Linked DNA regions of Homo sapiens. The protein of the gene in region 1 purifies or fractionates together with the protein of each later gene. This does not show direct contact. Each region holds a gene or a part of one and is shown in the gene's direction. Other genes may lie near its edges.

Region 1 (7,024 bases):
CTATCCGCACACACTGCTGTCTGCTCCATTTCATACCTTGACAATTGTCAGTGTGATTGCAAACTGGCTTGTTTGTGTTTCTTCTCTTTCCAGGAGTGGCTGTAAGGTGAAGAAGCATGAAACTCAGTCTCTCGCCCTGGATGCATGTTCTCGGGTGAGTCTGTGCCCATCTCCAGAATGTCTCTGAGACCAGGGGTCCTCCAGTGGGAGTTTGCATCCCCCTGGCGGGTGGTTCAAAAGGACTTTCCAATGGGTACCTGAGTACTCAGCTTTAAGAAGCCAATTTCCAGATCCTTACTGTCCCTGAAGAGAAGGCCCCTGAAGACAAGGGAACCCTTTCACAATGACTCTTTTTTTTTTTTGGTAAAATTCCCACTTTAAATGCTACAAAGATGCATCACCACAGGGTGTGAAAGTCTCCAGGGCACCGAAGGGAAGATCTGAAATACTGGTGTAGGTTCTAATAAGATAATTGACTCTAATAACTGGATGGTATTTTTCTTAAGTCAGATGGTTTTCTAATTCATTGCTTTCAACAATAGAGGAAAACCTGAGTTGTCAGCTGATAGGTCTAAAAATAATGTTTGATGGTAGATTTTTTTGGGCACATAACTTGGAAAGGGGTTCAAAGAATTGAAAGGCACTTATGTTACAGAACTACTTTCTGTTTCATCTATTGTTTATATAAATAAGGTTTCTTAATGATTATATTGATAAAAATAGAAACCAGGAATAAAATTGATGTTGACCTTTGTTACATTCTAGCAATAAATAATATCCATCCATGACCGTATAAACTAATTGCAAAACAAAGCGAAGCCCAGGCCCATCTGATTGCAATGAGATCCTTTTGTTCTTTTTAAAACTTTCTCAGTATACTTATTACAGAAATACATTCATTGGTTAATAGAGTTCAATTTAACATAACTTTTCCTCTACAATTTGGATCAGAAACTTGGTATATGGTGTAAGATGTAAAAAAGGGGTGTGATGGGGGAAATTTACAATCTGAGTTATTTTTCATCTGTTAACAAATGTGTAACATTCTCCCTCAGATTTTGCTAAAGTAGGCAGCAAGAACTATGAGAAATTTATCTTTGGTTTTCTTTAAAAAACAAAAACAAAAACCCAAAACCCATATATTTAGTGCACTGTAAAAGTTTTTAAGAATTAGTGCAATAAAACATTTTGTAATTGATATAACAACTTACTTTTGTGTCTGATAATACTTATCAAAACTTGCAATATTTTGAAAATAAGTTGTGCATTAATAAATGTGATAAGTCTCCAGCAGAAAAAATTTTAAGACTTAAAGAAAAAAGTTTCACAGAGACATTGGATAGAGACTTTTAAAAAGACTTTCAACCATGCAGATGTTTTTCATTTGGATAGTTTCTTGATGGAAGTGGGATGGAAATACAGATTTAGAGAGGAAAAGGAATAACATAAATTTCTGACTTATTCAGGAACTTGTTCATTTAAATTTACATATGGTATCAAATCACTAAGGTAACTAGATAGCATTAAGTAAATTCAATATTTAGAATATTCCAGATATTACATTCTTTGCAATTATTTAAACTTATGCCAAAAAGTTTTTAGATGTCACTTGAAAATGCAATGGGGGACATAGATTTTCAAAAAAAAATTAGGTATATGAGCAAAAAAATTGAAAACCATTGTCTTAAACCACTGAAACTGCTTGCTTATAAACTTAACCTAGAGAAGATCATTTTTTAAAACCTCAGACTCAAGTTACAGAAACTAGGTTCTATAAAACAGCATCTCACAATTGAAAGACTCCAACTTCCTCCTTGCTTTGTACCCAGGTCTGTGGTTAACCTCTCACATATCTGTATGGAGTTGTGTCTACTTTGTTCCATTCATGGGATGTCACTTTTCCCCATTGCTTGCCCTCCTAAAGGGTAGCATCTTCTCTGTTGTGTTTCTCAGGATGAAGGGGCAGTGATCTCCCAGATTTCAGACATTTCTAATAGGGATGGCCATGCTACTGATGAGGAGAAACTGGCATCCACGTCATGTGGTCAGAAATCAGCTGGTGCCGAGGTGAAAGGTGAGCCAGAGGAAGACCTGGAGTACTTTGAATGTTCCAATGTTCCTGTGTCTACCATAAATCATGCGTTTTCATCCTCAGAAGCAGGTATGGAAGCATATCTTCATCTTTCTAATGTACATAAGCATGGAAATGCCTGAAAGCCTAATAAAGCAGGAGGAGCCTTACAGAGATTAAAGAATTGGGTCACTTGAAGGATAGATTTAGGATGCTGACCTATGCTTTGCTTCTTTACCTGGAAAAGGGACACAAAGTGCTTATTGAAGTACTAGGAACGTAGAGATACTTGTGACAAGTTGTATAGGAGATGCTGATGTATGTGAGACTGCTTGAATTTCTTTATAATTTTATGTGAATATGGCCATATCTTAAAGTATAGTGGTGTGTTAGTTCATTTGCGTTGCTGTAAAGGAATACCTGAGAATGGCTAATTTATAGGAAAAAGAGGTTTATTTGGTTCATGGTTCTGCAGACTGTAGAATAAGCATGGCACCAGTGCCTGCTTCTGGTGAGGGACTCAGGAAGCTTCCAATCATGGTGGAAGGCAAGGGGGAGCAAGTGTGTCACATGGCGAGAGGTGGGAGGAAGAGGGGGCGGGGAGGATGCCAGGCTATTTTTAACAAAGATTTCACAGAAACTAACAGCAAGAAGTCGCTCATTACCACAAGGAGGGCACCAAGCTATTCATGAGGGATCCGCTCCTATGACCCAGCCACCTCCCATTAGGCCTCACTTCCAACTGTTGATCAGGTTTCAACATGAGATTTAGGGGGCAAATATTTAAACTATATCAAATGGCCTATAAATATGTCATATGTTTGACTTTTTTGTGATTGTTATACTCATTGTTTAACTTAGAGAAATAACAACTGACATGTATGGTGCCTTACCATGTACAGGCATTGTTTTAAGTGCTTTGCATATACTCATTCATAGCAAGGTGTTACCCTTTTCTCACTTCTTCAGAGAAACAAAGTAAGTCAAAGAAGTTAAGTGACTTGATTAAAGTCACTTGGCTAGGGTAGGACAGAAAAGTGGTATCTTTTTCCTCACCACAAGGTTCATGGCTGAGACATCTCTAACAAAAGATCAACAAGAGAAAAGTGTACAAATATATTTAATATAAGTTTTACATGACATTAGAGCCTCCAGAAATGAAGACCCAAAGGAACAGGGAAAACTGTACTTTTATAGATAGTTGTGCAGAAGTATAATTGGAGGACAGAAGGGTGTGATCTGTGGTAATAAACCAGGGGAACTTAGCAAGTCCTGTTTGTTCCAATTCCTCTTGGTGTCTGTGTCTTTCAGGATAAGGACATTGTTTTTCTCTGTGTACAGGGAGGACCCCTCTTGTAATGAGGTCTTATGAACTATTTTCAGGGGAAGGTCTGAGGGGTTGCTTTATGGCCTGCTTCAGGAAAGGGGGCAGGAGAGGGGCCGAGAGACCTCCCTGCTTCTGCTGTGTCCTCAAATGCGAAGGCACCATATTTTGGTGAAGTGTGTTCTGAACCTCATCATTAGTAAATGGTAGAACTACATTTGACTCTAAGCAGTCTGGTTCCATGGTCTTTTCGCCACAATGCCAAAGTATGAAGAGATTATTTTCATGATACTAGGCTACTGTAAATTTTCCTGGTACAGATGTGGTAAGTTGAGATTGACCAGTGCACTGTAAAATCTTTCTTAACATGCCAATGAGGAACCTGGGCTAACCAGGGTGGAAGCCTCTTATTGATGGACTCATCAGATCATTCTAGAGCTAAGCCCCTCTTTCTTGGGACCCCAGTTACATCCTTGGCCTTAAACTTTACTTATGAAAAGTTTAGAACCATGTTCCTGACTACATTAAACATTATTAAAAACTCAGATCTTCTTAACATAATTTTATTCATGGGCTTTTATGTATAGAATTTTAAAAGTCATGATCTGCCATTAAGCCAGGGAAGCAGATGGAAAGTCAGGACTTGGAGCAATTTATTCCCCCTGGCCTCCTTCTCATCCCAGGCCTCAGTCTCTCATCTATAAAATAATATGCCAGGCATTGTTCCTGATTTCTTCCAATACTGTCTTCTGCCCTGACATCTTTCCCAAAGATATTGTTCACCATTCCCCCAGTTTCTTGGGGTTAATCCTGAGTATTCTTAACACCTGCCTTGGTTTTTTTCCATCTGAAGTGTCTTCCTTTGCTGCCTCTTACACAGATCTGCACATCCCTTCAGGTCTCTCCAGCATGCTTTTGCTCCCACATTTCCTTTCCCCCTTCCTGTTCCACAGTACCTAGCGCAGTGTGTTAATTACAGGAAGGTAATATTATAAACTTACTGAGGTTAGAGACTACCACTCATCTTTGAGTCACCTTTGACACAGTACATGGTAAACATTTATTGAATTATATTCTTCCTCACTAGAGGAAATTCCTTCAATAAAAATTTATGTAGAGAGCTGGGGCCCTGTACATACAGTGCTGTCTTCAAAGTTAGCAAACAGCAAGGGGAACATATTTAAACAAGTGGTTACATTGTAACTGATCAGCCGCATCACAAGCAAGTGGAGGCTGCGGTCCTGGGTGTGGGAATGGCTACAGGCCCTGTTAGGTGAATCCTGACTGTGTCCTGGTGAGTGTCCCCTTGAAGCTGGGTCCTGATGGATACTTACTAGATGTTCTCCAGGAAATGAGATTTTCACACAGCCATGGGAAGAAAGCTGCCACGTTGGTAAAAGGCCTGGTTGCTTTCTGTAAGTATCTGGCCAAGTGGGAAACAAGGTCATACCGTGGAATCTGGGCTTGATCCTATAGGTAGGGAGGGGGAGGTTGAAGGTTTTTGAATAAGGGAGTGATGGTCACATTTGTGTTTTAAATAATTAGCTATTGACAACAATAGTAGTTAGTGATTGCCATGTGGAGGATTGTAACTTTAAACTTTTGTATGCTTTTCTGTATTTTTATGTTTACTTTAATGAGTGCATCTTCTGGTTATTTTATTTTTTATTTTTCTTATTTTTGAGACTGAGTTTCGCTCTTGTTGCCCAGGCTGGAGTGTGGTGGCGCTATCTCAACTCACTGCAACCTCCAGCTCCCGGGTTCAAGCGATTCTCCTGCTTCAGCCTCCCAAGTAGCTGAGATTATAGGCATGCGCCACCACGCCCAGCTAATTTTTGTATTTTTAGTAGATGAGGCTTCGCCATGTTGGCTAGGCTGGTCTCCTGACCTCAGATGATCCACCCACCTTGGCCTCCCAAAGTGCTGGGATTACAGGCATGAGCCACTGTGCCCAGCCATCTTCTGGTTATTTTAAATGTCATCCTCTACCCTAGTAGAGTAGAGGATAGACCTGAGACAAGGAAGCCCATTTGAAGGGGTGGAGGGGAGAATGAGTTTAGTTTCGCTGCCTTGAATTTTAAAGCTTATTATCTTATCTGCTGCATTAATTAGATCAAGGCCACCCTTCTGGGCTGGAATTTAAATTCACTCCGACTTGATGATTAAAAAAAAGCATTCAGTGTTACACAGTGTCCCCTTTCTGAAATAATGCCACAGTTAGTACGACACATTTTTCCAAACTTTTAATGGACACAAGGGGGCAGCCTTGCTGTTCTTTCAGCCTGAAGGCTGACGACCTGTTTGTGGCTGACTAACCATGTGCTCCTCTTCTGAATGTCATGGACTTATAACAGCACTCAACAAAATGCCAGCGCTCCTTTTAAATAAAATCTTAAAATGCTTTTCATGTGTTCATAAGTCATTCTCGCCTGCACTGGGGTTTCCAAGAGCCTTTCACTAGGGAGGAAAGGAACCGACTTCTTGGGATAACTATAAAAATGACTTTCTGTCTTAGGCATAGAGAAGGAGACGTGCCAGAAGATGGAAGAAGACGGGTCCACTGTGCTTGTAAGTTCCTGAATGTGGAGGGCCGGGTGGACTCAGGTTTCTTTCAGTATTTGTTTTGAAGCCCATGTGAATTTGTTAAATTCTGGTCAGTGTTAGGTGATGAGGATAAAATGTAAATGAGATAGTTTCTTCACTTGAGGAACACATAGTCTCTGCATTGTAACCCTAGCCGCAGGTAGCTGTGGAGCACTTGAACTGTAGCTACTCAGAAAAAGAAGAAGCATAAATGTCTCAACTTTTTATATTAACTACATGTTGAGATGATAATATTTTGGATGTCTTGGGTTAACTAAGGTTTATTATTATCATTATTATTGTTGTTATTATTATTATTATTTGAGACAGTCTCACTCTGTTCCCCAGGCTGGAGTACAGTGGTGCAATCTTGGCTAACTGCAACCTTCACCTCCTGGGCTCAAGTGATCCTTCTACCACAGCCTCCCAAGTAGCTGGAACTAGAGGCACGTGCCACCGCACCCAGCTAGTTTTTGTATTTTTTGCAGAAATGGGGTCTTGCCATGTTACCTAGGCTGGTCTCAAACTCCTGGGCTCAAGCAATCTGCCCACCTCCGCCTCCCAAAGTGCTGGGATTACAGGCATGAGCCCCTGCACCTGGCTGGTTTACTCAGTTCTTTTTTTTTTTTTTGAGACAGAGTTTCACTCTTGTCACCCAGGTTGGAGTACAGTGACGCAATCTCGGCTCACTACAACCTCCACCTACTGGGTTCAAGCAGTTCTCCTCCCTCAGCCTCCTCAGTAGCTGGGATTACAGGCATGCGCCACCACGCCCAGCTAATTTTTGTATTATTAGTAGAGATGGGGTTTCACCATGTTGGCCAAGCTGGTCTCAAACTCCTGACCTCAGGTGATCCACCTGCCTTGGCCTCCTGAAGTGCTGGGATTACAGGCATGAGCCACTGCGCCCAGCCCATTTACTCAGTTCTTAAACTTTAAACTTCCTAATTCCCAACTGATTCATCCATAAAATGAGTAGCACCCATCTGCCTTATCAAAGTGGTTGTAAGGATAAGATGAAATGACAACGTGAAAGATTTAAGCTG
Region 2 (7,024 bases), on another chromosome or scaffold:
ATCTTGGCTCACTGCAAGCTCTGCCTCCCAGGTTCACGCCATTCTTCTGCCTCAGCCTCCTAAATAGCTGAGACTACAGGCACCCGCCACCACGCCCGGCTAATTTTTTGTATTTTTAGTAGAGACAGGGTTTCGCTATGTTAGCCAGGATGGTCTCAATCTCCTGACCTCATTATCCGCCCACCTCAGCCTCCCAAAGTGCTGGGATTACAGGCGCCATCCACCATGCCTGGCCTAGCTTTCTTACATTGAATTTTTGCCAGTAAATATGTCCTCCTCCTCTCTAAATCTATCATCTGAATTATCCTTCAAGACCCATATCAAATTCTGTCCTCTTCATAAATACCTGCCGTGATTGAGCTAGCCTGAAAAGACCTCACCCTCCTCTGGACATTTTTGGCAATTATTGTGTATGCAATCCAGATGGCAATTAATAATTGGCTGCCTTGTGTCATCTGTCCTATTGTCCTAGAATATCATTTGTATCTCTTATTGTTATATAACTTTTTACTTGTTTGTCTTGTTTCACAACTCATTTTTAATCTTGAGCACAGGGAATATATATATATATATTTATTTATTTATTTTGAAACAGGTTCTGGCTCTGTCACCCAGGCTGGAGTGCAGTGGTGCAGTCTTGGTTCACTGCAACCTCCGCCTTATGGGCTCAAGCCATCCTCCATCCTCCCACCTCAGCCTCCTGGCTAGCTGGGACTATAGGCACGTGCCACCAGGCCCAGCTTTTTTTTTTCGAGATGTATTGCCCAGGCTAGAGTGCAGTGGTGTGATCTTGGCTCACTGCAACCTCCACCTCCTGGGTTCAAGCTATTCTCCTGCCTTAGCCTCCTGAGTAGCTGTGATTACAGGCATGCGCCACCACCCCTGGCTAATTTTTTTATTTTTAGTAGAGACAGGGTTTCACCATGTCGGTCAGGCTGGTCTTGAACTCCTGACCTCATGATCCGCCTGCCTCGGCCTCCCAAAGTGCTGAGATTACAGGCGTGAGCCACTGCGCCCGGCCTATGCCCGGCTAATTTTTGTAATTTTTGTAGAGATGGGGTTTTGTCATGTTGTCTGGGATGGTCTCAAACTCCTGAGGTCAAGCAGTGTGCCTGCCTTAGCCTCCCAAAGTGCTGGGATTACAGGCATGAGCCACCGTGCCCAGCAGGAAACGTATCTTAAGCCTGTCCCCTACAATGCCTTGCCCGTAGTAGATCTATACTTTGCTGTGACCCAGTGGACCTCTTGTCGTAGAGGCTGCTCAAAGGCTTGATTGGCTTTGTAGAGTTATATCATATCCAGGCTCTTAGGTCCTGCTAATTCCCTTGCGCCCCTTTTGCCTTGTTCTCTCTTCTAGGCACCTCATTGTGAACATGCTTTCTGCAACGCCTGCATCACCCAGTGGTTCTCTCAGCAACAGACATGTCCAGTGGACCGTAGTGTTGTGACGGTCGCCCATCTGCGCCCAGTACCTCGGATCATGCGGAACATGTTGTCAAAGCTGCAGATTGCCTGTGACAACGCTGTGTTCGGCTGTAGTGCCGTTGTCCGGCTTGACAACCTCATGTCTCACCTCAGCGACTGTGAGCACAACCCGAAGCGGCCTGTGACCTGTGAACAGGGCTGTGGGTGAGATTTGTTCCCTTCTGCCCCACATGGATAAGGGCCATCTCATTTATGCCCCTGTCTCTGGCTGCCCTCCTCACTAGCTGAGGAGGTCTCTTTGGCATGTTGGCAAGGAGTATTCTTAGCCTCCTTGGCTTCCTGCTCTAAGATCTTACTTTCTTGCTGCTTTTCCAACTATAATCATTTTGCTCTTGCTTTAACAAAAGAAGGGGCACAGCAATTTAGTAAATTTGTGTAATAACATTAAAGCTTGATTGACTCTATTCTTCCCTTTCAGTCCAATACTACTTTCCGTTTGTCAGGTTGACTGCTATAATTGCCAGCCTTCTCATATTTCCTCTTGCCCTATTTTTTTATTTCTGTGGGTTATGAAATATTCGACTAAATGTTGATAGCTGAAGGGCATGTTAGCTCACACCTGTAATCCTAGCACTTTGGGAGGCCGAAGTGGGCAAGTCACTTCAGGCCAGGAGTTCAAGACCAACCTGGCCAACATGGCAAAACCTTGTCTCTACTAAAAATACAAAAATTAGCCAGGTGTGGGGCCGGGCGCGGTGGCTCACGCCTGTAATCCCAGCACTTTGGGAGGCCAAGGCGGGTGGATCACGAGGTCAGGAGATTGAGACCATCCTGGCTAACACATTGAAACCCCGTCTCTACTAAAAATACAAAAAACTAGCCAGGCGTGGTGGCAGGCACCTGTAGTCCCAGCTACTTGGGAGGCTGAGGCAGGAGAACGGCATGAACCTGGGACGGGGAGCTTGCAGTGAGCAGAGATTGAGCCACTGCACTCCAGCCTGGGCAACAGAGCGAGACTCCGTCTCAAAAAAAAAAAAAAAAAATTAGCCAAGTGTGGTGGTGCTCGCCTGTAATCCCAGCTACTCAGGAGGCTGAGGCATGAGAATCACTTAAAACCAGAGGTAGAGGTTGTAGTGAGCTGAGATCGCGCCATTGCACTCCAGCCTGGGTGACAGAATGAGACTCTGTTCCCCCTAACTAAAAAATAAAAAGAATGTTGATAGCTGGGGCTGTGAATATAGGGCTTCTCTGAAGGAATAAGTGCACAGGCAGAATCTGTAGGAGGAAAAGGAGAGCTGTGCAGTAGATAAAAACAGTGTGTCAAAATAAATAAATAGGCCCCGTGCGGTGGCTCACGCCTGTAATCCCAGCACTTTGGGAGGACGAGGCGGGCGGATCACCTGAGGTCAGGAGTTCAAGACCAGCGTGGCCAACATGGTGAAACCCCATCTCTACTAAAAATATAAAAATTAGCCAGGTGTGGTGGTGGGCACCTGTAATCCCAGCTACTCGGGAGGCTGAGGCACAAGAATTACTTGAACCCATGAGGCGGAGGTTGCAGTGAGCTGAGACCGTGCCATTGCACTCCAGCCTGGGTGACAAGAGTGAAACTTGGTCTCGAAAAAAAAAAAAAAAGGCCAGGCGCGGTGGCTCACGCCTGTAATCCCAACACTTTGGAAGGCCGAGGGGGGCAGATCACGTGAGGCCAGGAGTTTGAGACCAGCCTGGCTAACATGGAGAAACCCCATTTCTACTAAAAATACAAAAAGTTAGCCGGCCATGGTGGCGCGCACCTGTAATCCCAGCTACTCGGGAGGCTGAGGCAGGAGAATCGCTTGAACCTGGGAGGCAGAGGTTGCGCTGAGCTGAGATCATGCCATCGCACTCCAGTTTGGGCAACAAGAGCGAAACTCCGTGTCAAAAAAAATAATAAAAATACAAAATAAAATAAATTTAAAAAATAGATAAAACACTGTGTCTTGATTGGGGAAAGAAATTTAAGGAAAATAGACAGCAAAGGGGCAAGTAGGAAGCTTGGACGAAGAAAGTGAAGGGAATAAACAAGAGGGAGGCCTGAAATGAATGTTAGAAATTTTGGGTAGGACAAAATCTACTTAGCAGTTATCTGCCACAGAATAGGCCATTTGCATACATGTCCCAGGGATCACCTCTGTTCTGCTCTTTCCCCACCCTGGTCTGCAGCCTGGAGATGCCCAAAGATGAGCTGCCCAACCATAACTGCATTAAGCACCTGCGCTCAGTGGTACAGCAGCAGCAGACACGCATCGCAGAGCTGGAGAAGACGTCAGCTGAACACAAACACCAGCTGGCGGAGCAGGTAGGCCCCAAGACACGGGGGAGAACATATCCCTCATATGCAGATAACTGCCTGCCTGTGGGTAATAAAAACCAGTTGTGAACACACAGACCAGTGCTTACACTTGTGAGCCTAGATGAGTGGATATTCTGCCTGTGGCTTAGCAGGGAATCAGATTGGAGCTCTCCTTGACTTTTCTTCATCCCATTCATAGCATTAATTCACCTACCAGTTATCACATGCCTCCTCTGTGAAGGCACATTTGTAAGTACTAAGGAGACAGCTGTGAGTGAGACAGTCTTATCCCTGTCTTCCTGAAGCTTACAAACTGGTTGTTCTTCAGATCTCTCAGTTGCCCTCATTCTTGGATAAACTTTTGTCTTTTTTCTGCTGTCTGCCTTAACCATTATTCCTGTTCTTCTTCCCCACAACAGAAGCGAGACATCCAGCTGCTAAAGGCATACATGCGTGCAATCCGCAGTGTCAACCCCAACCTTCAGAACCTGGAGGAGACAATTGAATACAACGAGATCCTAGAGTGAGTGTCACTCAGGACGTGGAGTGATTTCATGTCCTGACAACAAGGCCTGAAAGGAGGAAGAGCAGGAGAGTAGCAGAAGGAGGGCATTGGAGAGCTGGGCTGGGGGTCACTGCTTCTCAGATATTGGCATTAAGGACAGGGGCAGAGGAGAAGAGGATAACCCTTAGCTCCACTACAGGATGTCTTATGTGTTTGGGTGGATGGAGGGAAAGCCTGCCCAAGGATGCACTTTATCCAGAATTAGGTGAGTACCCATGTACAAAGCCCTGTATTAAAGGCTGTGGAGTGCTAGGAGGGCCAAAAAGAAATAGAAGATATCGTCCTGTCTTCAGGTAGCTTACAACCCAGAGAAGAGGAGGCAGAGTGCAAGTCCAGGAAAGTGATCTCTAAAATGCAGCAAAAACAAGCGAAGTATACAAGTGAAGTCTAAGATCTCTTTCAGTTCTGGAGTCCTATACAGTTCATAGAGTAAACTGTAAGTGTGAATCAATATATACAGGGCAAATAGTGCTGAGTGGGACATAGGATAGAGGAATAATTGTTTTATTCACTAAACATAGAGCACTAACTGTGTTAGGCGCTATATGTGCTAAGTATTGGAATTTCAAAGAAAAGTAACAGAGACAGAGTGCAGACTTGTGGAATTTAATCTGGTGAGTAACATGTGGTGACTCAGTTGGGACCAAGTGGGGAAAGATTTGGGGTTTCTGAGCCAATGATGGAAGGAAAGAAGGAAGAATAGGTAAGCTGAGTGCAGAGTGGGTAGTTATTTCTATTAGCAGAAAAAGCCAATACAGAGAAAGGAGATGAGCTGGAATGACCATCTTTAACCACCTCCACACAGGTGGGTGAACTCCCTTCAGCCAGCAAGAGTGACCCGCTGGGGAGGGATGATCTCGACTCCTGATGCTGTGCTCCAGGCTGTAATCAAGCGCTCCCTGGTGGAGAGTGGCTGTCCTGCTTCTATTGTCAACGAGCTGATTGAAAATGCCCACGAGCGTAGCTGGCCCCAGGGTCTGGCCACACTAGAGACTAGACAGATGAACCGACGCTACTATGAGAACTACGTGGCCAAGCGCATCCCTGGCAAGCAGGCTGTTGTCGTGATGGCCTGTGAGAACCAGCACATGGGGGATGACATGGTGCAAGAGCCAGGCCTTGTCATGATATTTGCGCATGGCGTGGAAGAGATATAAGAGAACTCGACTGGCTATCAGGAAGAGATGGAAATCAGAAAATCCCATCACTCCAGCAGCTGGGACCTGAGTCCTACCCACCATTCTTAATACTGTGGCTTATACCTGAGCCACACATCTCCCTGCCCTTCTGGCACTGAAGGGCCTTGGGGTAGTTTGCTCAGCCTTTCAGGTGGGAAACCCAGATTTCCTCCCTTTGCCATATTCCCCTAAAATGTCTATAAATTATCAGTCTGGGTGGGAAAGCCCCCACCTCCATCCATTTTCCTGCTTAGGGTCCCTGGTTCCAGTTATTTTCAGAAAGCACAAAGAGATTCAATTTCCCTGGAGGATCAGGACAGAGGAAGGAATCTCTAATCGTCCCTCTCCTCCAAAACCAGGGAATCAGAGCAGTCAGGCCTGTTGACTCTAAGCAGCAGACATCCTGAAGAAATGGTAAGGGTGGAGCCAAATCTCTAGAAATAAGTAGTGAGGCCGTTAATTGGCCATCACTGATGGCCCTTAGGGAAAGACTGGACCTCTGTGCCAAGCAGTATCCCTGTTCAGCCCACCTTAAAGGTGTAGGCACCCACTGGGTCTACCAGTATGCAGGTTGGGATACTGAAAATTTCCAGATGAGCTCTTCTTTCCTACAAGTTTTCATAATTAGGGAATGCCAGGGTTTAGGGTAGGGGTTAATCTGTTGGGGGTTGATGTGTTTAGCAAGAAGCTACTCCTAGCTTTTGCTAAAATATGGTTGGCACTGCCTCTTGTGGCACAGGCCATAATTGTTCCATAGACCCCTCTCTAGCCCTGTGACTGTAGTTAGTTACTTTGATAATTTTCTTTGGCCATTGTTTGTTTATATTTCACAAACTCCACCTACTGCCCCCCCCCCTCTTTTTTTTAAGAATGGCCTGATCATGGCTATCTCAGCCACATTGTTGGCAATTTAATTTATTTACTTCCTTTTTTTTTTTTTAAGAAAGGAAAAAAGAAAAAAAAATCAAACTTGAAACTTTTCTTTTGATGTTCCTATTGTGGGGGTTCTGGATAGGGTGGGACAGGGATGGGGGTGTGTTTTATATTTTTTCCTTTTCAGCACAACCTTTGGCTTTAATATAGGAAGAGCCAAGGGAGTCCTCGGCTGAACTTACGATATCTGCCCCAAACCTCTGTAACCCCAACTGAAATGAGGAGCTTCCTCTCTTCCTGTGAAGGATATGACAGTCCAGCATCGATGCCTGTGCCCTCTGGAAAAATTTCCTCCTAGCCCTTCCAGGGCCTTATCATAAAACTCTGGATTTAGAGTATTCATTTTGAAGGCAACTCCCCCTTCCCCAAGTTTCCTTGGAGCTGTATAGCTGGGTTCTAAGCTTCACCATGCAAATCAGAAATTTTATCTCTAAGTACAGGCTGTGCCGTGTCTCACCCACACCCCCCTGGGGACTTCAGTTCCATTTCAGGTTACCTGGGGTATACCTTGATCCCTAGAGTGACTGGCAGAGTAAGAGAAGGGGAGAGATAATAGGTGTGATTATTTTAATATGGAGGTGGGAGTGTGGT
Region 3 (7,498 bases), on another chromosome or scaffold:
GGATTCTCTGGGAAGCAGACTACGAAACAGATTGGCATGCAGGAGGTTTGTTAGGGGATGTATTGCAGAAAGGAAGGAAACAGGATTGGGCAGAGGAAGCAGCTGAGTTTCACACTATGCAGCTCTCTTCCGCTGAGGCAGTCTGCAAAGGGGCACACAGCTGAGAGCTGTCTGCTGGCAGCATTTCCAGTCACTGGGAAAATAATTTCTTTTTTCCCTGGACAGTGCATCACAGGTCCCCCCACAACATCATCAAGGCTGTTCTGTAACCACAAGTAAATCATCTCTTCTTCATCTATAAGTTGATTCACAAATTTGGAAATCAATGTGGAATATTTTTCTTTTTGGATCTCTGTGAATATTGTTTGATACAGAGCTTGTGATCAATAAGATTACCAATTACATTTTCTCTTTTATACTTTTGCTTTCCTCTACAGTTTCTAATTGCTTTTTTGGTACTATTTGAAGAAATATATTGTCAACTTTTTCCAACCTCTTCATCAAATTCACTTTTCTATGGAAATCCTCCTTTTTTTTCTTTTCTTTTCTTTTCTTTTTTCTTTCTTTTTTTTTTTTTTTTTTTTTTTTGAGACAGAGTCTTGCTCTGTCTCCCAGGCTGGAGTGCAGTGGCGTGATCTTGGCTACCGCAACCTCCACCTCCCGAGTTCAAGCAATTCTTCTGCCTCAGCCTCCCGAGTAGCTGGGACTACAGGCACCCACTGCCACACCCAGCTAATTTCTGTATTTTTAGTAGAGATAGGGTTTCACCATGTTGACCAGGCTGGTCTTGAACTCCTGACCTCAGGCGATCTGCCTGTCTTGGCCTCTGAAAGTGCTAGGATTACAGACGTGAGCCACTATGCCTGGCTCTCCTTTTTTTTTCCCCTAGAGATCTCCATCCCAGGGCCCTGTGTCTGCCCACTTCAATTTGGATGAGCTGTTATTCCAGTCTTGCTACACAGTTGTCACCATGGGGTTTCCCTTTACTGCCATCCTTGGTTAAACTCATTGCTTTCTGGATTCCATGTTTAAAACTTTTGTTTCGTTTATGCCCTGGTTTTGCTGAGGTATTTTCTTAGAAGAGATGTAAAGCAAGCTAGTTTTATGAGTCTAAAAAATGTCTTTATTTTTCTTTTCCATTTAGTTGAAGATTTGACTGGATATAGAATTTTGAGCTGAAACTAATTTTTCATCAGGAATTTAAAAGCATTGTTCCATTGTCTGCCTGAAATGGATTCTTTCTTTTTTTTTTTTTTGAGATGGAGTCTCACTTTTGTCACCCAGGCTCTAGTGCAATAGTGTGATCTCGGCTCACTGCAACTTCCGCCTCCCAGGTTCAAGCAATTCTCCTGCCTCAGCTTCCCGAGTAGCTGGGATTACAGGTACGGGTCGCCATGCCTGGCTAAGTTTTGTATTTTTAGTAGAGATGGGGTTTCATCATGTTGGCCAGGCTGGTCTCAAACTCCTGACCTCAGGTGATCTGCCCGCCGCGGCCTCCCAAAGTGCTGGGATTCCAGGCATGAACCATCATGCCCAGCCAAGATTCTGATCCAGCATTCACTCAACAAACATTCCAAGTATGTTCTAGGCACTAATGATACAGGTGCTCCCTGTAAATTCTTCATAAGTTAAAAGTATTGTAAGTTGAAAATGCATTTAACACACCTAACCTACTGAACATAGGGATATGGGAGTTAAGAAGAAATTACTTGGGCAGATAGTGAGGGTACGGAAGTCCTTGGTAAGGCTTTTATCCTTAATGAAAAGCAGCCCCAAATTGTTTTTTAACAAAGAGCAGCCTATAAAGTTGAGCTGCAGATATAAACAAGCAAGCTGGGAGCTTGCACAGGTGAATGCCGGCAGGAGCTAGGGACTATATGTGTTCAAGATGGTGGCTCTGTCTTCCTTTCTCTTTGTCGACCACCATACAATGTATTAAAGAGCAGTCAAGATAGTGCTGATCAACTGGAGAGTCCATTTACATAATAAGATTAGGGTGGGGCAGCCAGTCTTCCTCGCGGGCTATGTAAATGTCATACCTGATGGTACCAATCTATGAGGTCTGCGTAAATCAGACACCACCTTTTCCAGCCTGCCTATAAAATCTGCTGCGGTCCGCCGCCTCCCGTTTTGGACTTCTCTCTCTCTCCTTTCTTCTATTAAGTTTTCTACTTCTTAACCCACCCACGTGTGTCTGTGTCCTGAATTCTTTCTCATTGTGAGACAAGGAACCCCAGCATAAATACTCTAGACAATGTAGCTGTTAAAGTAGCATAGCCTAGCCTACCTAAAACGTGCTGAGAACACTTGCATTAGCCTACAGTTGGGCAAAATCACCTAACACAAAGCCTAGTTTGTGACAAAGTGTTGAATCTCATAGAATTTATTGAATACTGTACTGAATTTGAAAAACAGAATAGTTGTTTGAATACTCAAAGTACAGTTTCTGCTGAATGCATTCTCTCTTTTGAGCCATCTTATGATAAATCTACATCAAATTATTGTTATGTTAGGGAAGGAAACTGCCTTTGCAGAACTGACAGTAACAGAAATGTGACATGGTTGACTTCATCTTGCTTCTGACCTCCAAGCTGTCCTTGGTTATTCCTGGGCATAGGCCAAGCTAACTTTGGGAGGAATTCAATTTATAGTTTAATTTGAAAGTAAAGATTATAATAGTCCCTCCCTAAAACTAACCCCCTCCTTTCTCAGGGACCAAAATCGCCTTTGTAAGACTAATGAAAGGCCACAGGAATAGGATAATGGGAGAAGGCAGAACTCTGCTAAAATGTAGGCATAGTTTCTATAGTCCCTTAATGCCCAGGGGTCATGTGGCCAGAGTTCACAAGATCTGTGACTTTCCCAATTGCTCCTGTAAGTAACATCACTATTGTAGAACTTAAGATTGGGGTGTTTGTTTGTTTGTTTGTTTTTGTATTTTTAGTAGAGACGGGGTTTCACCATCTTGGCCAGGCTGGTCTCGAACTCCTGATCTTGTGATCCACCCACCTGGGCCTCCCAAAGTGCTGGGATTACAGGCGTGAGCCACCGCGCCCAGCCAAGATTGAGTTTTTTAAGATGTTTTTCAGACTGACCTCACTCAGACTCATGACTCATGACTCAACAGGTCCTGGGGCCCCACCCAGAGGCAGACTCAGTGCATGAGGACTGCTTTCCACACCGGTATGATTTCATCCCCAACCAATCAGCGGCACTATCCCCCTACCCCCTGACAACCAAATTGTCCATAAAAACCCTTGTTCCGAGCCTACAGGGAGACTGATCTGAGGGATAACTCCAGTTCTCCCACGTGGGCTCAGCCTCGCGGCAGTTAAACTCTTTCTCTATTGCAATGCCATGGTCTCAGTGAATTGATTTTTGTCTGTGCAGTGGGGAAGAAGAACTTGTTGGGTGGCTCCAGAACCATCTGTATAATGATGAATAAGACAAAGTCCCTACTCTCATGGAGGAGACAGATAATAAAGAAAAGAAAAAAAAAGGATTTGGTCATTGTAAGTGCTATGAAGAATTTAAATAGGCTAAAGGGATAGGTGGAGAATAGAAGTTGCATTTTTTCTTTCCCTCCAGATAGAGTCTCACTCTGTCACCCAGGCTGGAGTGCAGTGGTGCGATCTTGGCTCACTGCAACCTCCACCTCTGGGTTCAGGCAGTTCTCCTGCCTTAGCCTCCTAAATAGCTGGGATAGCAGGCACCTGCCACCACGCCCGGCTAATTTTTGTCTTTTTAGTAGAGAGGGGGTTTTACCATGTTCGCCAGGCTGGTCTTGAACTCCTAACCTCAAGTAATCCACCCACCTCGGCCTCCCAAAGTGCTGGGATCACAGGCATGAGTCACTGTGCCCGACCTGAAAGTTGCTATTTTAGGTGTGATGAGCAGCACAACATCTTTCCTGAGGAGGTGACATTTGAGATGTGACTTGAATTGTGAGGAGTAATGTGTCATGCAAAAATACAGGGAAGTCATATTGTAGTCAAAGGCAATAGCAAAAAAAAGTCTTTGGGGTTAAAATAAGTCTGACACATTCAAGAAAGTTCAGAAAGGCATACATACCTGTGTTAGAGTAGGTAGCTAGGGGAACATGAGAAGGGCAGCAGAGGGCATTCCACCCCCACCCCCAACCAGGAATGTCAGGCGACCATCATGTGATGGTCAGGTGGTTGTTACACTGTTTCTCTAAAATCATCATTGGTTGCAGCCAGCACCAGGGAAAGGCCGGCTCCCAATAGATAGAAAACACCTGAAGCTAGTGTCAGCCGCTTCCTGATAAGATCTCAGGAGTTGGGCAAGTGGGCTCAAGCATGGGCCCTAAGGGGCAAAATGTCAGAGTTTAACTAATATATGACCTTCCTCTAGGAATTCTCGACTGGCAAGGGAAAAATGCCTCAAATGAGCACGCGCACAACTTCAGTAAACACACTGTGAGTGCGGCCACTCCCAAGTGCTGGCAGACCACTGCATAAGTGGACAGCCTGCTCCAAGGGAAGGATCAGGAGAGAAGAAACGCAAATCCCAGAACCGTGCCAACATATAAAACCCCACATTAAGGGTTGTACAGTGCACTGGGATTTCTCAAGTCACCCGCTTGGTCCTCTTCCAAGTATACTTTACTTCCTTTCATTCCTCTCTAAAACTTTTTTAAAAACTTTCACTCCTGCTCTAAAAGTTATCTTGGTTTCTTACTCTACCTTATGCCCCTTGGGCGAATTTTTTCCTCTGAGGAGGGAAGAATAGAGTTGCTGCTGCAGACACATCAGATTCCCTACTGGTAACAGCTGGAGTGCGGTAAGTAAGGAGGAGAGGGCTGGAAAATGAAGTTGGCTCTGATTCCCATTACTTGAAAATACAGGGTAGGAAAACCCTATCTTCTTAGGTTCAGTGGCTGGGGAGCACCATCACTCAAGGTGAGAACTGCCTGGCTGAGCCCAGCCAACTCACAGAACTGTATGAGGTATTTTCATCTACTGTGCTAGGCACCTAGTGAGAGCCCTTTTGCGTCTTTCAACTTTGGAAAAAATTATGATTTATTTTTATTTTTTAAATTAATTTTATTTTTTTTTTTTATGTTTTTAGAGATAGGTTCTTACTCTGTCATCCAAGCCAGAGTGCGGTGGCATGATCATGGCTCACTGTAGCCCAGAACTACTGGGCTCAAGTGATTCTCCTGCCTCAGCTTCCCAAGCAGCTGGTACCACAAGCACATGCCAGCATGTGCAGCATGGGAAATATTTTTATGTTACCACCTCGACACTTTCTTCCTTCTACTTTTCTGTGTCATGTCTGCATCTCCCGTCACTTAGATAGGGACCTCACAGTTTGATTCTCCAGACCTTTAATATTTTTTCATATTTTAAATATTTCTTTAATTCTGTTTTTTGAGATATTTTATTAAATTTACCTTCAACCTTCTGTGGATTTTTTTTTTTAGACAGGGTCTTGCTCTACTGCCCAGGCTGGAGTGCAGTGGCATAATGATGGTTCATTGCAGCCTCGACCTCCCGGGCTAACGCAATCCTCCCACCAGGAGCAATCCTCTCAAGTAGTTGGAACTACAGGTGCATGCCACTAAATTCAGCTAATATTTTTTATTTTTTATAGAGATGGGGGTCTCGCCGTGTTGGCCAGGCTGGTCTCAAACCCCTAGGCTCAAGTGATCCTCCTGCCTCAGCCTCCCAAAGTGCTGGGATTATAGGTATGAGCCACCAAACACTGCCAGAATTTTAAATATCAGGATATAGGAAAGGTTTTGCTTTCGTTTTCAATTTTGTTTTTGTCTTATGGCACGGGGCCAGGCAGGGCAAAGGGTAGATTCCATTGACACTTATTTTTAATTTTCTGCCCAAGTACGTTCCCACCATTGTTCCTGGTGTTTCAGACCCTCTCCAGGGTCTGCAGAGTCTTGTTTGGCTGGAGCCCCTTCTACTCTAGTCTAATGCCCCTCTGCCCTAATTCCTCAACTACCAGGCCGTCACTGCTTTCCATTACCCACAACCATGGAGAAAGCTCTCATCAGCTAATGTGCCTTCTCCAGTTTGCCACATTATTACATTATTGTCTGGACATACCTGTTTTTTTGTTGTTGTTGTTTGTTTGTTTGTTTTTGAGACAGGGACTCGCTGTGTTACCCAGGCTGGAGTGTAGTGTTGCCTTCTCGGCTCACTGCAACCTCTGCCTCCCAGGTTCACTCGATTCTCCTGCCTCAGCCCCCTGAGTAGCTGGGATTACAGGCACCTGCCACCACGCCCAGCTAATTTTTGTATTTTTAGTAGAGATGATTTTGCCATATTGGCCAGGCTGGTTTCAAACTCCTGACCTCAAGTGATCCACCTGTCTCAGCCTCCCAAAGTACTGGAATTACAGGTATGAGCCACTACGCCTCATCTGGACCTACTTGTTTTTAAAAATGCCTTTGTTATCATTTTAATGAAGTCTCTTAAAGGAAAGGAGTTGCATTTGTGTGTTCTGTCTTCTTCAGTAAAGAGAGGGCTTTTATTTATTTATTTTATGTATGGAGATAAATGAACCTTAAACATTGTATATTTTTATTTTTATAAATCCACCTGTTTACTGTCATTTCAAACATTACTTTAAATTTATTTTCCCCTCAGAGCTTTTAAATAATCAGGAGCTCTAAGCATTGCCTGGGAAATGTTTTGTTTTCTTTGCGCTGTCCGCCACATGCTAGTGATTTTCAGCAAGGTTGTGTTTACGTGTATTTCAACTGGGCAAATAGGAACTAATATGAAATAAAATAACATTAATCAAACCTGACTTTATGAGCAAGTTTTGAAATAGTTCACATCTCAAATTAAAAATAAGTCTTTTTTGCTAATTAATGAATGAATGTTTTGGTCAAGAATCATTTCAAAGCTGAGCAGCTGAGTGAATGATAGAAACTGCACTCACACTGTTGCTGTATGGTGGCACCATCTCAGCCGGTATACAGAGATGTCTGCAGGTTTTCATCAGGATCATGGGAACTGCACTGTTGTTTACAGACATTGGAACTCTGACTTGTGACTTTAGTGTAATTTAAAACTTTTTTATATCTCAAAGCCATTTGCATTAGTCCATTTTCATGCTGCCGATAAAGACATGCCCAAGATGGGCAATTTACACAGGAAGAAGGTTTAATGGACTCACAGTTCCGTGTGGCTGGGGAGGCCTCATAATCATGGCAGGAGGCAAGGAGGAGCAAGTCACATCTTACATGGATGACAGCAGGCAAAGAAAGAGCTTGTGCAGGGAAACTCCCCTTATAAAATCATCAGATTTCGTGAGACTTATTCACTATCATGAGAACAACATGGGAAAGACCTGCCCCCATGATTCAATTACCTCCCACCAGGTCCTTCCTGCAACAAGTGGGAATTTAAGATGAGATCCGGGTGGGGACACAGCCAAACTGCATCACCATTTCACCCACGTTTTATGTGTTGGTGCTAGTGGGAGTACTAAAAAACTGTTCCCAGATCAATAA

Evidence for each region. Proteins that work in one complex are often made in the same cells at the same time.
Region 2: the proteins of TACC1 (region 1) and RNF41 purify together in Homo sapiens (affinity purification with mass spectrometry; 3 studies listed by BioGRID and IntAct, with this or other methods). This does not show direct contact.
Region 3: the proteins of TACC1 (region 1) and TACC2 purify together in Homo sapiens (affinity purification with mass spectrometry; 3 studies listed by BioGRID and IntAct, with this or other methods). This does not show direct contact.

The regions. Positions count from the first base shown.
Region 1 is NC_000008.11:38,825,215-38,832,238, forward strand, and holds part of TACC1 (transforming acidic coiled-coil-containing protein 1), read left to right. Parts: intron 1-93; coding exon 94-154; intron 155-1,953; coding exon 1,954-2,161; coding exon of another isoform or gene 2,162-2,214; exon of another isoform or gene 2,215-3,356; intron 3,357-5,910; coding exon 5,911-5,963; intron 5,964-7,024. UniProt on the Homo sapiens protein: Involved in transcription regulation induced by nuclear receptors, including in T3 thyroid hormone and all-trans retinoic acid pathways. Might promote the nuclear localization of the receptors.
Region 2 is NC_000012.12:56,204,902-56,211,925, reverse strand, and holds part of RNF41 (E3 ubiquitin-protein ligase NRDP1), read left to right. Parts: intron 1-1,357; coding exon 1,358-1,629; intron 1,630-3,627; coding exon 3,628-3,763; intron 3,764-4,176; coding exon 4,177-4,280; intron 4,281-4,615; coding exon of another isoform or gene 4,616-4,619; exon of another isoform or gene 4,620-4,758; intron 4,759-5,127; coding exon 5,128-5,479; 3' UTR 5,480-7,024. UniProt on the Homo sapiens protein: Acts as E3 ubiquitin-protein ligase and regulates the degradation of target proteins. Polyubiquitinates MYD88. Negatively regulates MYD88-dependent production of pro-inflammatory cytokines.
Region 3 is NC_000010.11:121,984,686-121,992,183, forward strand, and holds the start of TACC2 (transforming acidic coiled-coil-containing protein 2), read left to right. Parts: upstream 1-4,477; 5' UTR 4,478-4,803; intron 4,804-7,498. UniProt on the Homo sapiens protein: Plays a role in the microtubule-dependent coupling of the nucleus and the centrosome. Involved in the processes that regulate centrosome-mediated interkinetic nuclear migration (INM) of neural progenitors.